2 separate regions of the Homo sapiens genome follow, and region 2 is linked to region 1. A link means that fine-mapping ties the variant in region 1 to the expression of a gene that starts in the linked region. Tissue or cell type: sigmoid colon. Region 1 holds a variant in brackets; the other region holds the start of a gene. All regions are shown on one strand. Distances are from middle to middle.

Evidence for each region. PIP is the estimated chance that this variant, and not a neighbour inherited with it, causes the effect.
Region 2: it holds the start of SLC16A12, and the variant in region 1 is fine-mapped to the expression of SLC16A12 in sigmoid colon (GTEx, PIP 0.99). The same link has a PIP of 0.9 or more in tibial nerve.

The regions. Positions count from the first base shown.
Region 1 is chr10:89,472,210-89,480,317 of GRCh38, forward strand. The region is part of intron 2 of SLC16A12 (solute carrier family 16 member 12); the gene reads right to left. Among named protein-coding and RNA genes, the nearest start is that of SLC16A12-AS1, 20 kb to the left of the region's middle. RefSeq lists an enhancer at 4,158-4,658. The variant G/A (reference allele first, on the strand shown) is at 4,150.
Region 2 is chr10:89,531,537-89,539,644 of GRCh38, forward strand. SLC16A12 (solute carrier family 16 member 12) reads right to left here and starts at 4,058. Exons shown (of 8, transcript NM_213606.4): 1 at 3,906-4,058; 2 at 2,965-3,104. RefSeq lists an enhancer at 2,325-3,224.

The DNA of each region.
Region 1 (8,108 bases):
TACCACTTTACAGTAGCTTCAAAAAATATGAAATGCCAAGAAATAGATTCAACACAACATGTGCATTATTTTTACATTAATAATAATGTAATAATAAAACAGCAATAAGAAAAATTTACAAAGGCCTAAAAAAGAGAGAAAGAGAGATACCCTGTTCACAGATTGGAAGACTTGGAAGATGTCATATCTACTTAAGTTAGTTGATAGTTTCAGTGAAATCCCAAACAAAATTCCAGCAGCATTACTTCTTTCTTTTTTCTTTTCTTTTCTTTTCTTTCTTTTTTTTTTTTTTTTTTTTTTTGAGATGGAGTCTTGCTGTGTTGCCCAGGCTGGAGTGCAGTGGGGCGATCTCGGCTCACTATAACCTCCACCTCCTAGGTTCAAGTGATTCTCCTGCCTCAGCCTCTCGAGTAGCTGGGAATCCAGGTGCCCACAACCATGCCCAGCTAATTTTTGTATTTTTAGTAGCGATGGGATTTCACTATGTTGGCCAGGCTAGTCTCGAACTCCTGACCTCAAGGGATCCACCTGCCTTGGCCTCCCAGAGTGCTAGGATTACAGGTGTGAGCCACCGTGCCTGGTCAGTATTTTTTCTTTTAAATTTTTTTCTTTTTTATTATTTTCTTGAGACAGGATCTCACTCTGTCACCTGGGCCAGAGTGCAGTGGCGCTATCATGGCTCACTGCAGGTTTGACCTCCTGGGCTCAAGTGATTCTACCACCTCGGCAACCCAAACAGCTGGGACTACAGGCACATACCACCACATCTAACCAATTTTTGTATTTTTTTGTAGAGATGAGGTTTCACTATGTTTCTCAGGCTGGTCTCAAACTTTTGGGCTCAAGCGATTCTCCTGCTTCGGCCTCCCAAAGTGCTGGGATTACAGGCATAAGTCACTACACCTGGCCTCAGCAGTCTTTTTTTTTTTTTTAATGGAAACTGACAAGCTGATTCTAAAATCTATATGGAACTGCAAATGACCTAGAAAAGCCAAAATATTTTTAAAAGAAAGAACAAAGGTTGAAGACTTACATTAACTGATTTCAAGACTTGTTCTAAAACCAGAGTAATCAAAACAGTGTGATATTGGCACATTATATTAGTGGAACGGAATAGAAAGTTCAGATACAGACCTACACATTTATTCACATGGGGAAAAATGAATCTTGACTCTTATTGTCACTCCATTTATACCAAACCTATAGATAGAACATGTAAACGTAAAAGAAAACTATACAACTTATGGAAGAAAACAGAGGGAAAAAAATCTTTATAACTTGGGAATAGGCAAAGGTTTTTTAGAGAGGACAAAAGCAGCAAAATAAACTCCCCACTCTTGCCTTCATTTAAAATGGAGGCTTATGAAGAAGTTTACATTTATTATAGCAACAAACAAGTTGTAATTTTTTTCGTATCTATATTGTTTTACGAGTAAGTTTCAACCCTACCGCAACTCACTAGAGAAGATTTCTAAATGAACTCTACTATTACCTCTGCAGTGGGGAGGTACTCTTTTAGGGTACCTTTGTAACCCTTAATGTGTCCCATTTGAAGCTCTTTGATCTACACACTCACTCCTGTCTCTGTAGAGAAGCAAGAGGGAAACACACAGATAATATTTCTAATCATGGAAACTCAGTGTCCTCAGCCATAATCTGTTTGCCTGAGGATTGGCTGGTCCTTGAAGTCCTCAGCAGAAGCCACGTTCAGCCCATAAATATGATCATCTCCTTAGCCAAATATCAGCCTCACTCCTAGCCCATCACTACCATACCCACCTATCCTATAATACTATAAATTTCTTTCAACTCACTGAAAAACTCAGGCTTTATATCTTTTTACATGCTATTCATTTTACCTTCAAATTCCTTTCTTCCACACTTCCCCACCTGAATTACCTATCACTCCTGATTCCACTGCTTCTATGCCTTAAAACAGGCATCTCCCTCTTCCAGGTTTTTGGAGATCTCTGTGTATGCCTTTCCTGGCACTTATCAAATACATTCTTGTTATCTATTTACCTTTCTCTCTGTCTCCCACTAGACTGTTTAACTCCCAGAGCAAGTCACCTTTGCATCTTCCCCCAATTCCTCTCACCTTACCCAAACCCAAACAAAATACATGCATGCACACACACGCACCCAAACACACTGCCTGGTTCAGAATAAGAGCTTACTCTACGCCTAATAAATGAATGAAATAAGTTCTGCCTTCACCAGGGAGAACCCCCTCAAGTCATAAGAAATAAAAGTGTAAATAACTGTCACTAGTTTTTAAATGGCCATTCAGCTGAAAGAAACATGGAAAGCACTTTATCTTCATCAGAGAGGTCTAATCTTCACAAAGCAAGAAAATCAACCATTATAACTAGAAAACGAACAGTATTTAACACAACCAGCTTCTCTCTAAACAGCGCACACCAGAGTGTGGCATTCATGTCACGGAGGTACCAGCCAGCACTCAGAGCTCAAGTGTCTGACTCTTGGAACACAGAATAAGCCACAAAGTAATAACAGTAACAATGATTATTACTATTTAGGGGCACTGAATCCACCAGGCTCTGAATTCACTGCTACATATATGTTATTCCATGTTATCTTCATCTTGACCCTGTGACGTAGGTATTATAATCTCCATTTTACAGACAAAGTAAGGAATGCTCTATCCAAGATTCTACCTCAGGTCTGATTTCAAAGCTTGTGCTCTTATTCACCGCAAACCATTGCCTCTCCCTGGCCTTTAAGCTGCGTCTTGGTAGAAGCCATAACTGTCATGTTGGATGTTGTGTCCCCAGCAACTAAACAGTGCCTGACATGTGTTTGCTAAATGTTGTTGCTAAATGTAAGCCTCTTGTGGATATTCAGAAAACGATAGATTGGCTCCCTATCACTTCACATTTTATTACTCCCTCTTAACAAGAATTAAATGTCTGCCTCTACCCCACCCCAGTTAACATCCTGGCCTATGGCTAGGAAACAGAGAGGAAACCATGTGTATTAAAGGGTAATTTTCCAAGTATGAGAGAATTCCAACATTTTTTTCTGCACAGCCTTTACAGCAGTGTAGCAAAGGGTTCCAGCTGGTAGCCTTACAGACTTCTATCCTAGGGGCAAACTCGAGTTCCAAAGGGACTGAACGTGGGAGGGAAGTTAAGAAACCCCTCTCTCTCTGCTTAGGCTTGCACAGTCTCTGGCCCAAGCACCCAATTGTTTTCATCCACTTAGAGCCTCTGGATCCTGGAGATGCCTTCAACTGGAAATTGATTTATTTATTTTTATTGTTTACTGACATTACACATGTGCCATGAGACAATACATATATAATGTTCTAGGTGAAGAGAGACTAAGACTGCTTTTTTTGATGTGCTTATTTTTCCTTTCTGCTTCTCTCTGCTTAGTCCTCAAACAAATCCTGGTAACGGGAGTAAATAATTACTGACTTCAACCAGAAATTTTTGGATGTTTGTCAGAGACCTTTGGGCACTAAACTGAAACACTGACCTTTGCTAAAGAAACTGCCAAAGCCTCTACATTGTGTGTGATGCTTTGAGGACAGGAACACTTTACATAAGACTTAGAATAAACAGCAGAGTGATTTATATGGTATTTGGTCTACAGAAAGGAAGAAAAAGGTACAACTCGTGATTCACATACGAGGCAGACAGTAGAAAGCAAAATTCTTTCCCACCCTTTCAGTTCCTAATCCACAGAGCCACCGATTCTAGGCAACATCAGAAAAATGCTTACTTCTGAGTGGTTGAATGTGCAATTCATAACCAGAAGCTTGCCCCCAACTACATTTTCTGCAGTAATAGGGTTCTGGTATAACATTGGGTGTAGTGTCTGGCATAAAGTCGGTGCTCAATACTTGTGTAGTTCCATGAATAAATTTTTGTGTCTAACTCAGTGCCTTGTATAACTCTTTTATTCTAATTTTGTACTCTGTTACAGAGTATGGCATCATTAAGTCAGATTATATCGGAGGCATCTTGGCTGTAAAGGAGAACCTGGGAGTTTGAGATGCATTTCACAGAGTCTTTTTGTTCGTCATCAGAGAGCCTATTATTGAGAACAGTGCTGCTCTCCATACCACGATATTTCCTTCACTCTGTAATCGCTGCCATCCGCCATGCTGTTGAAATGGGAGGG[G/A]CAATGAGTCCATTATTTCAGTCAGCTAGAAATTAACCCCTCATGTCATGGAGTACTACGGAGAACTGGTGTTTGTAGGAGTGCAGGCAGAAGAACATAGTTCTGCACTCAGAGTGTGAGATCCCTAAGAGGAGGGACCCTGGAGGCTCCCACTCCCCACTATCTCCAGTGCCTAGGATCATGCCTGGGAGAGAACAGGGACTCAATAAGCAGTTACTGAACAAACTTCCCAGTTCTCTGGTTCAGGATAATTTCTCAAATTACATGGGGAAATGGTACACGGAGCTTGAAGAATGGTAACAAGAAACCCTTTCTTTGATCTTTTTATCCACCATAACCAGCCTTCCCAGCACTGGGGTCATAGAACCCTAACTGACTACATCTCTCTGGGCACATACCTAGGCCCTGACCCCAGACCAGGCCAAAGGTGGAAACAGAAATTCACTGGCAGATTTGCCCCTTCTTTCTGCTTTTGCAAAGTGGGCCGCAGGAGGGCTCACCTACAGGGCCTGGCACTCGGCCCACAGTCTGCCCCACATCACGCTGGCCATCACATTCCACAGGCCTGTAGAGATGTTTATTTTTGTGTTCTGTAGACTCTGCTCACTGCTTGAGCCACAGCAGGTCACACAAAGGACAAGGTGTTGCCAAGGCTGAGAATGTGGTGTACTATTTTTTTGTAAGACGGGGGCTTGAATTTCTGCTGTGAAATGAGTTAGAAATGATTTTACAAAAATTCCTTCAAGATACGGATGGTCGTTTTTGTTCCTATCCTGATAGAAATAGATATTGTTAAACCAGTTCATTCCACCTCCCTCTAGTTTGGAACCGAAGAAAGTTTGATGAACTTTTAACAAAGTCCTTGGAAGTAATTCCCAGATTCTTTGCATGTGAGTACAGTCTGTACATTTAAAAACATGTCCAGCCCAGGCGCAGTGGCTCACGCCTGTAATCCCAGCACTTTGGGAGGCCGAGGTGGGCGGATCACTTGAGGTCAAGAGTTCAAGACCAGCCTGACCAACATGGAGGAACCCCATCTCTACTAAAAATACAAAATTAGCTGGGCGTGGTGGTGCATGTCTGTAATCCCAGCTACTCGGGAGGCTGAGGCAGGAGAATCACTTGAACCCAGGAGGAGGAGGTTGCGTTGAGCCGAGATTGTGCCATTGCACTTGAGCCTGGGCAACAAGAGCAAAACTCTGTCTCAAAAAAAAAAAAAAAAAAAAAAAAAGATGTCCTTAGCCAAACACAGCAATAGTTATATTCTTAATATAAGCCATAAGCCATTTGTTAGTTAAGAATCTGTATAAAGACAATAAGTAAAATAAATTTGATGAATTTTCAAATAAATTTTCTTATGAATCACTAAGGCACTTACACATTTGAAGAATCATGTAACTGTGTAAGATATTCTGTCCACCAACAATATTATATGTACATATGGATTTACAGTCTCTGTACTAAGTCTATTGTTCCCTCCCAGTTCTGAGACCGGCCCCTGCCCTGCCCCCGCCCCCACCCCCACCCCGATGAAGTCCCTCTGTTTATTAAGAGTAGGACTTGTGCCTTGGAGAACATGAGTTCTTTCTGGTTTACTGGGTATATTATTTAAGGAACTGGGAAGGGAAGACTTCAATAAAGACATTGTTTATAAAGGTATAAGCAGTGTTAATAATATCTAACAACACTATATCATGATAGTGTTGGAGAATAACAGTTACATCAAGTAGAACTTAATAAAGGAAGTGGAGTGCCTTGGGTCTAGTAACAGTGGGAAACTATTACCACCTCTAGACTTAAGGGGGCAGAGGGAGAGAGCAGTTACTAGAATCTTGGAGAGTTGACGTAGAAAGTCCCTGTTGAAGGGAAGCAGTCAGTCCACAGGATCTGACAGTGAAAGAACCAAGGAGGTAAACACATCAGCCACACCTACTCCTGCATTCCAAGTCTCAGAGGTAATTGAACCCAATGGGAGCCCAACTGATGCAGTCCATAAATGTTTTCAGCCTCCCAGGTCAGAGAACAGGGTGGAAGTGGGATGGACAGTGAACCTGCAGGGGGAAACAAAAACTGTGTTGCATACCAGTGTGATCCGTAAGCTTGCCTTGCAGCATTCTAGGGCTATGGTAAAAAGGTGAAGTCAAGTCCTGAGCTCACGCTGGGCTTTGCCTTTAAACTAGATCAAGTTGCTGATGTTTACCAACTCAAATCTTTTAGTGTATTTCAAAGATGAAACTCATCTGTGAAACCAACTTCCTCTTTCACTGCTCAGACTTAAGCATTCCCTTAGTTTCAGCCACCTATCACCTTTATTTAAATGGACAACTATAAAATCTGCATCTCTGCTTCCGATCTTTCTCCCAAGTTACAGACTCAAATTTCCAATAGTCTGCAGGGTACCTCAAACTCTCATGTCCAAAAACACTGGCTATTCACTCCTGGAAACACTGTTTTCTTAATGCTCTCATTGTTTCCAACTAGAAATGCTAAAAGCTTTGAGTCATTTTGACTCTATCCCAACTCTCATTACAAGTGAATCCAACTCTTATCACTTATTTTTTGTAATCCCTTTCACATCTGCCCTCCCATCTTAATTTTCCATTGCCTTGTTCCTGAACTGAGCCTGAGCCCGTCCTAGCCTGGCTTGTTCAGCCCTGACTCTACCTCTTACTTATGGACTGACCTTATTTAGACTTCTCTGCCACTTACTAATAGTGAACTGTCACTTAGTGTCTCAGTGCCTCATTCCTTATCTGCAGGATAGCCGCATGTTTAGTACCTACAGCTGGGGACAAAGACCTCCTTTTCCATGATCCTGTGGGGTGGAGACTCCAGTAGATTTAACACTCCTGGCTCTTCTCCTTCTCCTCACTTTTCGCTGTAAGAGGGGTTGCTTATCTGTTTCCTTGGGAGAAATCATTGCCTACACTCACCTCACACTCTTTCTCTTTTTTTTTTTCATGTGGGATCTGCCTATTTGTAGAGAAGCTTATCTTCCTCAGCAATTCTGTGCTATAAGTAAAATAGGGGAAGATGCCCTTGCAAGGAGGCCTGTGGTTGTTTAAGAGCTGACAGTGACTACAACTTGGCTCCTTTTCATGAGCAAAGTATTGCAACCCTACTTGGCTAGTTGTCCTAAGCCTCGTGCCTTAACTATCAGTATTATTAGCCTTTAGGGTGGCATTTTGATCTTCATCTGTTTAATTCCTGTTTCTACCTCTAAATTGGCTTAGAACTTAGGGAAAATATGAATGTTTTGTATTGGTCCTTTCAAATCCCAACTCCTACCCCACGGAGTTGTTGAGAAAATGAAATGAGGTAACCCATATTATATCACAAAGCATAGGTCCTGTCCACAGTAAGCATTCAAATAAATGTTAGCTATTACTACTATTGTTATTATAGACTGCCTCCATGAGCCTTACATAAGGGATAAAAAACTTAAAATTTCAATATCCTGTGATTATTATGATTTATATATCACGATAGTGTTGGAGAATAATAGTTATATCAAGTAGAACTTCATAAACTGCAAAAGAAGCTCTATCACCATTCTCTATCCAAAGACTTTACATAGAGGCATTTACATGTCTCCTGAGGCTGGGTGTGAAAAATGTTCTGAAAGATAATTTATCTGAGAAGGAGGCTTATAAGAGGCCCTTTAGGTCATGATGCAGCTGTAAATAGTAACACAACATGGCTCAGAAAAAGATCTTTAAAAATAAAAAAGAAACCCACATTCCTCTGACAGGACACCCCTCTCTCAATAATTCCAGGGTTTTTTTGCCATCCCACTCCACCCTCAGTTATACTACTACTCTTTGAGGCCATTAAAACTGCTGCAAATATGAATACCACATTACATTTTGAAGCACATGGAACAGTGCCCTTGGCATGAGGTCAGACATATCTGGCTTGGAAACTCTACTCTGATAATTACTAGCTCTGTGATTTTGACA
Region 2 (8,108 bases), 59 kb after region 1:
GTCTCTGTGTCTGAGCAACCACCAGGATGTGGTTCAGAGGAGGAGAGCATTGGTTAATCCAATGAGTTGTTTCAGTGTTGGGCAGTATTTCATTAAGCAGAACAGAGTCACATGCATGTAGAGGGGCAGAGAGGTGATAAGTGTCTATTATATGACCCAACACAGCCTCAACTGGTTCCCAAGAGGAAGTTCTCTACGTGTCTTCAAAAAGAGGCAAGGATGTGCTGCCATAAAGATAGGTATATCCTCTGCCTCTATAAAAGCTTTACCGTGCTTTACCATCTTTCAAGAAGCAACTCCAATGGGCCCTCCTCTACAAAGTCTTCCCTAACCCTCAAATCTTCACAGTGCCTGCCTGCTCTCTCTTCTTCCTTTTAATTCCCAAAGTACTTATGCATCTCTTATGGTAGTTTGAATCGGTATGATAGCTAGCCATACAATGTCCTCTCTTCCATACCAGGATGTAAGCTGCATCAGAGGCATGTTCTGTGTCTTTACACGTCCTGCTGTCACCAGCACCAGAAAAGAGATGCTCAAAACACAGTCTTCACACAAATCCTTATACAAATCTTTTAATAAGAAGTAGAAGTTCAATAAATATTCATTAAATTAATAAATGAATGAGCACACTAATTAAATAATTAATTAATTTCATGCAACATCTTACCTGGCTACAGCAATTAACCCTACTCGTCAATGCGCGGTAAATGAAGGAAGGATATGTATCTGATGGGGCACAGTGGTGGGTGAATGAAGAAAAAAAAATCAGCTACTCCAGGTGCCTAGCATGCATCAGAAATTGTGACTGTTCCCCAAATGTTCAACAGACACCACCTTCAAACAGGACATTGTTAGATAATGACACTTTCTGATGTCCTTTGATGTAGAGCACATTAAAAATATTATCAGAGGGAAAATCTTTCTGTTCAAAATCCCCCAACCTCTTCAACTGTGTATTTAGTTTTCATCAATTAAATTATTATATCATTTCAATGGGTGACTTTTTATATACACTGGAAAGGTACTCATAAGAAAATAGCTTCCAAATTGGCAATTTTTAAAAGCAAAGCAACTGGTTAGGTGAGGAATGCATAAACAACCCCAAAAGCGGCACTGAATACTTTTCTTTGGCTGTATACGACTGAAAAACTGCCAAGTTCATTTCGATAAGCCTTTGTTAAAAACAATAAACATGCCTGAGCTTGCAAACTATGCTGTTTTGAAGAAAAAGCAATTGAGAGAATTAGAAAATGCTTAAAACTGGAATGTCTAATAGTCTATGAATATGGAGGAAAGTGGGGGACAAAATGTAAAGTGAGACAAAATAACAACAGAACACCATCTTCATAAATAAATAAAAAGCAACATCTTATAAACTAATTTAATTAGTCTCCAATACTAACATGGTACCACTAACACTCTTAAGAAAACAAATCATCCCGTGCTTCAAGTTTAGTCACCAAGGTGATCTCCCTGCAATAAAGGAAATGTAATTTCATTGACTCCAAATGAACATATATTAAATAACCAAATGTGGGAACTGCAATTCACTTACAGTAAAATGTCAGCTCATAAAAGTCAAAGTAACTTCACCTGAATTTGTTTTTTTGTTGTTGTTGTTGTCGTTTTTAGTTTTTTTTTTTTCCATGATTATAAGATTCTCAGAATTGCAGGATTGGAAGGAAGATAGTTTGGATCACTTATGTTTATTTTCCTGCTTAGGTAAAACTGAAATTCTCTTGTACCTGCCTAAGAAATCCTGGAAAAATTCTAGTGAATAAATTGCAACTTGAGCTCTATAGGATCAAAGTTCTTTGTTTTGTTCATTGACATATCCCAAATGCCCAGAACAGCACTAGGCATACAGTAGGCACTCAATAAATATCTGCTCAATTGAACTAAATTGAAAAATATGCAGTGCAATGCAATGTTAAATAAGTCACTTTGAAACTCCTTTCTTAGCTTTGTTTTGGTCATAGTATTAATCACAATAAACAAACAGTCCTCATATAAAACACTTCAACACTATAATTCATGTTTTTACTTCTGATCGATCATTACCATAGAGGGTGCTGAGAATCAGAAAAGACTCCAAGGAAAGATGGGGGTAGAGTTACTCCCATCTATTTGGACTAATTTTCTTCTTCTGGGCATTCACCTGAGAAGTATCTGTATATCCATAATATAAAAATAATTTAAAATATTACTTAAAATTAAAGGTTTGCACCTTTAAAAATTGTGCCACAAAAGCAATTTGATTAAATCAACCTCTCATCTATTTCAGAATCCCATCAGTTAAAAAAAAAAAACATAAAAAATAAGAACAGGAAAATGATGTGATTAGGTGATGCTAGTCATATTATTTTTGCTCAAAATGCCTAGAGGCAATATGCCTTGGAAAACTGAGTTAGGTGGGAATGAGAAGATCTGGATTCTAGTGTTGATTCCATCACCAGTTAACAGTATGAATTCAGCCAATCCTTGCCAATCTGGATCTGAGCTTCCTGGGCTGTAACGTGAAGAGTTTGAATTTAGTAGATGGTCTCCAAAGCCTTTCAGTTTCAAAGTTTCTCTAAACCCTGTAATTATAAGTGACTAAATCCAGTTCACCTAATTACTACCACTACTCTTTTACATCCTTCATTTCTTCAGCAAACATCCGGTCACCTTGGGGGCGCAGGGGGTGGAGGATGTCAAACACCATTAGCCACAGTTTGGCACGACATTTATGGAGGGGGAGCGACAAACAATGCAAGGGCAGCTAGCTGATGATTTTAACTGTTAGCGAGCTTACACCTGTGGAGCGAATGTGTTTCTGAATTTGAAAGGCCGGAAGATTTTCCCCCTGGGCTAAGCTGGTGACGCCGCGGGAGTGCCTAGCTCTGAGCAAAGAACCAGGTAGGATGAACTAATTAGAGGCTCTTCAAAAGGAGAGTGTTTAACCAGTTTCCTGGCAGGACTCACCTGACTAGACATTTTTAAAAATTATGGCCAGGCACGGTGGCTCACGCCTGTAATCCCATCACTTTGGGAGGCTAAAGCGGGCAGATCGCTTGAGCCCAGGAGCTCGAGAGCAAACCGGCCAATATGTCGAAATCCTGTATCTGCAAAAAAAAAAAAAAAAAAAAAAAAAAATCCAAAAATTAGCCGGGCGTGGTGGCGCGCACCTTTAGTCCCAGCTACTCCAGATGCTGGGGAGGGAGGATCGTTGGAGCCGGGGAGGCGGAGGTTGCAATGAGCTGAGATCGCGCCACTGCACTCCAGCCTGGGCGACAGAGCGAGACCTTGTCTCTAAATAAATAAATAGTATAAGAGGTTTAGAATGCTGATGTGTGAAAACGGAAGACTAACCAAATAGCCCCAGGACTTACTGAAATTGTGCTTCAAAATTTTGTTACGAACGCTTTTCCGAGTCCACAATACAGGTATCACTGGTTTATTTGTGGACAAGAAGCAACTGAGAAATTGAGTTCAATCCACTGAAAGCCGGTGTGTTTTTAATATAGCACACACGGGAAATAAATATTATTGTCTGAGGTGGGGGACGGGGAGAGATTTTTAAAATGTACTATAAACATAAAATCCAGAAGAAAGATGGTCTCTATTCCACCGAGAAGTCTGCATTTGAAAACCACAAGAGATGGAGATCAAAGCCGCTCGTTCTCCAGCCACCTGCCCAAAAACTCGGCCGCAGCGCAGACCCAACCCAGACAGGGCAAGTGAGCACGTGTCTCCCTCCCAACCCAAGCTGCGCGCCGACGCACCCAAGTTAGGGTCCCAGGCTCCCGGCGCGGGATGGGCGCTAGGGCAGCGGAGAATGGAGGGTCCCCGTCCTCCTCCAGCTCCAACGACAGCGCCAGCGCCCCGCCGTCCCGCCGCCCTTCCTTGAAGGATGCCCGTGTCACCTGAGCCACCGCGCCCTCTGCACAACCGTGTCAGGGAGAGGGAAGAGGGGGAGCCGAGGAAGCTTCTTGGCCAGGGCGCTGGGGATCCGGGAGCGGGGGCCGCCGGCGAGACTGAGCCCGGGACAGCCCAGAGCTCCAGCGCTCCAGCGCTCTGCAGCCCGCCCAGAGCGCGCAGACCACCCCCATGCCCCGCCCGCCCTCCTGCCACACCCGCCCCCAGCCCGGCCCCGCCGCCTCCTCACCTCGCCGGGACCACTGCAGCCCTGGCGGTAGCGCGCGGACATGCCCCCGGGGCGCACCCGCCGAGCCGCGTCCCTGCGCAGTGGCCCCTTCCCGGGCCCCAGGCTGCGCGATCCGCGCTTCGGTGGGGCGGGGAGCGGACTGGGCGGAGGCGCCGGCGAGGCTGGGGCCGGGGGCCTAGCTGGCAACGCCGGGAGAGGGAAGCGTAGCGCGGAAAATCCCAGTGCTCGGCCTTCGAAATGCACCGGCTCATTCAGCCCCGCCAGCTCCGCCGGGGACTCTGCCTGGCCGGCAAAGAGGATTTAGCGCGGGGATCCGCTCTAAGTACTGTGGCTTGGCTAGGGGCGAGGGGCGCAGCGGAGGAGGGACGTCTCGCGGTTATGTAATGCACCGGCTTTCTGTGTCCCCAGCCAAACCGCTCTAGGACTGCCGGACCCTCCCCGGGAAGAGCCATGACCCCTGACCTCGGCAAGCCGAGGGGAGCTCGGTGTTCCCAAAAAGAACTTTTCCCCTCAGGGTCAAAGAGCAAGATCTCGAGAAAAAATACAAGGCCTCCTTTAGGTGTATCTGGCAGGGATCCGGACCCTGCTAGCCAATCCTTCCCATTTCACAGCACAGGAAACTGAAGCTCCAGAATGCTAGTGAAAAGCGTTATCTCTTGGAGTCAAAAGGACCTGGGTTCAACGCATCTGAAAATCTCATAACCTTGGGCAATTTAACTCTCTGAGCCTCACTTTTGCTTGTAAAACAAAGGATGATAGCGCCCACTTCATGTTGTTGCTGCGAGTATGAAATGAGTGAGGTGTAGGCGCCCGGTACATAATACAATTCCCCAAACGTTGACTCAAAGCCTGAAAAGGGAGCTGCCAGGACGTACCCCACGTAGGACAGGTTCCAGGCGAACTTTCTGTAAAGTCCTCTCCTTGTCAGAAGCAAGGCCTCTGAACTGACAAGGTCTGGTTCCAATATCTTGGAGCCTACGTCCTCACTTCTTCAAGAGTGGCCCGTAGACCAACAGCGAGGTCATCACCTGGGTGCTTGTTAAAAATGCGGAATCTCAGGCCCAACCGCGGATCAGAATCTGCATTTTTTGCAAGATTCCCTGGTGATTTCGCTGTATGTCAAAATTTCAAAATGAATTAGGCTTTTTGGAATTATTATTATTATTATTTTTGAGAAGCAGTCTCGCTCTGTCGCCCAGGCTGGAGTGCAGTGGTGCGATTTTGGCTCACTGCAACCTCCGCCTCCCTAGTTCAAACGATTCTCCTGCCTCAGCTTCCGGAGTAGCTGGGATTACGGGCGCGTGCCACCACGCCCAGCTAATTTTTTGTATCTTTGGTAGAGACGGGATTTCACCATGTTGGCCAGGCTGATCTCGAACTCCTGACCTCATGATCTGCCCGACAAAGAGTTACTGATGAACAGTAGGGAGCATTTGCCACGCAGCAAGGCACCGTAGGTATGTTTTTTTTTTTTTTTTTTTTGGGAAGGAGTCTCGTTTTGTTTGTTTTCTAAAGAAGGGATTTCACTATGTCGCTAAGGCTAGAGTGCTGTGGTGCGATCATAGCTCATTGCAGTCTCGAACTCCTAGGCTCAAGGGATCCTCCTGCCTCAGCCTCCCCAAGCACTGGGATTACAGGCTTGAGCCACTGTGCAAGCCAGGGGTTTTTTTAAATAGTCTAGTATAGTCCTTTCTCATTTTACCCTCTGGCTATTTTTAGTCATCCCCCTCCTCTCAGTTTCCTGCCCTTTAACTATAAATCTGAATTTAAGTCCTATTTTCACTTGCAAAAAACCCTAGGTTAGATTTAAGTGATGATTAGTGAATAAATGTTCAAAACTCACAAAAGAAAGAACAAATACAGCTTGTAAAAGAATTCATTAGCATTGAAAATGAACCTGTAAATGTAGAGGCTGCCATGAGTGAGCCCTGACCTCTCAGCCGTGAAGGTCTTTAGGTTAAAGGCTTGAATACCTTTGAGTTTCAGAAAAATGCTTCTTTCAGTTAAACATTGCTTTGGGTGGCAAATAAGTCTCACTTTCCATTTAAATAATGTAGGACAACAGTTTTTAAAGTTTTGGAGACTAGGACACCGCACAAGGCTTCCTTTCGTCTAAGTCACCACTTACAGGGGGCTCTAGCAAAGACCAAAGCTAATACTGTGTTTATTCTATTCAATGCTGTGTCACTGATGTTGTTGTTTCATTAGAAGTTCAGATTTTGTGTGTCTGATTCTATCTCTGGCAGGATGATTTTCATCCTTTACGAGTTCAGTAACTGTGGGTTGATGATGGTGATGGTGAGTGCAATGCGTATAGGCAGTGCCGGATACAGACGGGTCACTTCTGTGTGCCTACCCCTTTGGGGTTCCACGCTCAAGACCTGACATAGCTGCTGACAGGCAGCATGGAAGTGGAGAAAGGGAGATGCACAAAGCAAAACAATCTCCTTTCACTGAGGCTGGAGGATTGGGGGTGGAGAATGTTGGACTGCTATCGCTGTGCAGAAGAAAAGCAAAGCAAAGGAACCCTAGAATCCAACCTAGGAGGAAAGGGAAGGAGCAACATTTCTTCCAAATAGCACTGTCCAACAGAATTTTCTACAGTGATGGAAATGTGCTATGTTTGCACAGTCCCAACACGGCTATAAAATATGGCTATTTACATTTTAGTTAATTAATTATAATCGTAATTAAAATTGAGGTTTCTTGTGTGTGTTTTGCTTTTTTCTTTTTTACTACTAGTCTGTTGCACTAATCACCTTTCAAGTGCTTCACTCCAAGATGTGGCTAATGTCTACCATACTGGATAGCACTCAAAACGTTTTCTTCATCACAGAAAGTTCTACTGGACAGTGACGCTTAGAGGCCAGGATTTTGGTAAAGAAATGAGCCCAGATACCCAGCTTTTCCAAGTCATAGTCAGAACTTCATCTGTCTAAAAGCAAGTAATAGAATGAAAATTAAACCTACATCGAGGCTTTGTGATAATCAAAATGAGTTAATCTATAGAATGTATTTAATTCAATGCCTTGCATATTATACATGTGTAAAAAATATTAATCCTTATTAGTATTAATAGTCTTTTACCTTAAAAATATTGGGGAATGACAAAGATTTTTTTCCTTGGCCAAACTTTAGTCAGGCTCCTGAACTTTCTCCTAAGACCATGTGTGTATTTCCTTGTAAATTCCAGTTTATCAAAGAACCCGGCAAAATCAGTTTGGCAATAACGTCCCTTCCCATTGACAACTGATCACCCAAGGGTTCCTCATCCTCCACTGTCCTCCAGGTGATATCTAATCACCTTGGCCTGTCTTTAGTAAGAATCCTGTTAGGTCGATTTAACTAGAGTCCCATATCCTGTTTCTTGGCTATAAATTCCGATTTTCCTCTGCTGTATTCATAGTGGAGCCCCATCTCTCTACCCTACTGCAAGTCTTCGTTGTAGTGGTCCCTGTATCTGTCTCAATGGTCCTGAATAGTCTTCTTTACCATGCTGTAACAAGTGACATTGAATATTTTTTTTCTTTAATAGGGACATGGCATTAATGGTACATCATTATTAGTTAAGTAACCTTTCGCTGATGTGGTCAGCTGATCTGGTACCTCCACATGCATTAATAGTTGTGTTCTAACTTTCTCCCTTCCTCTTCTTCCCTACTCAGAATTGAGTACTATTTGTACTTTTCTGGCCTGGAGGCACAGAATATTTTGTCAAATCCCTACCATTTGTAGCCAATAAATAACACGTGTGTTAACTAAAATCCTATTGCACCATGGTTCAGTGGAATTAATTTTCAGATAGGATTCTGAGAAGCCTGACACCTTAGGGTACATCCATTATGAAAAGAATTGTTTGTTCCTGTTATTTGGTCAAACAAGAATGTGTGGACTCAGTACAGAAAAAAAGGGAACATTGGCTACAGATAAGTAATATTTGGGGTGTCCAGGTCAAGATAGA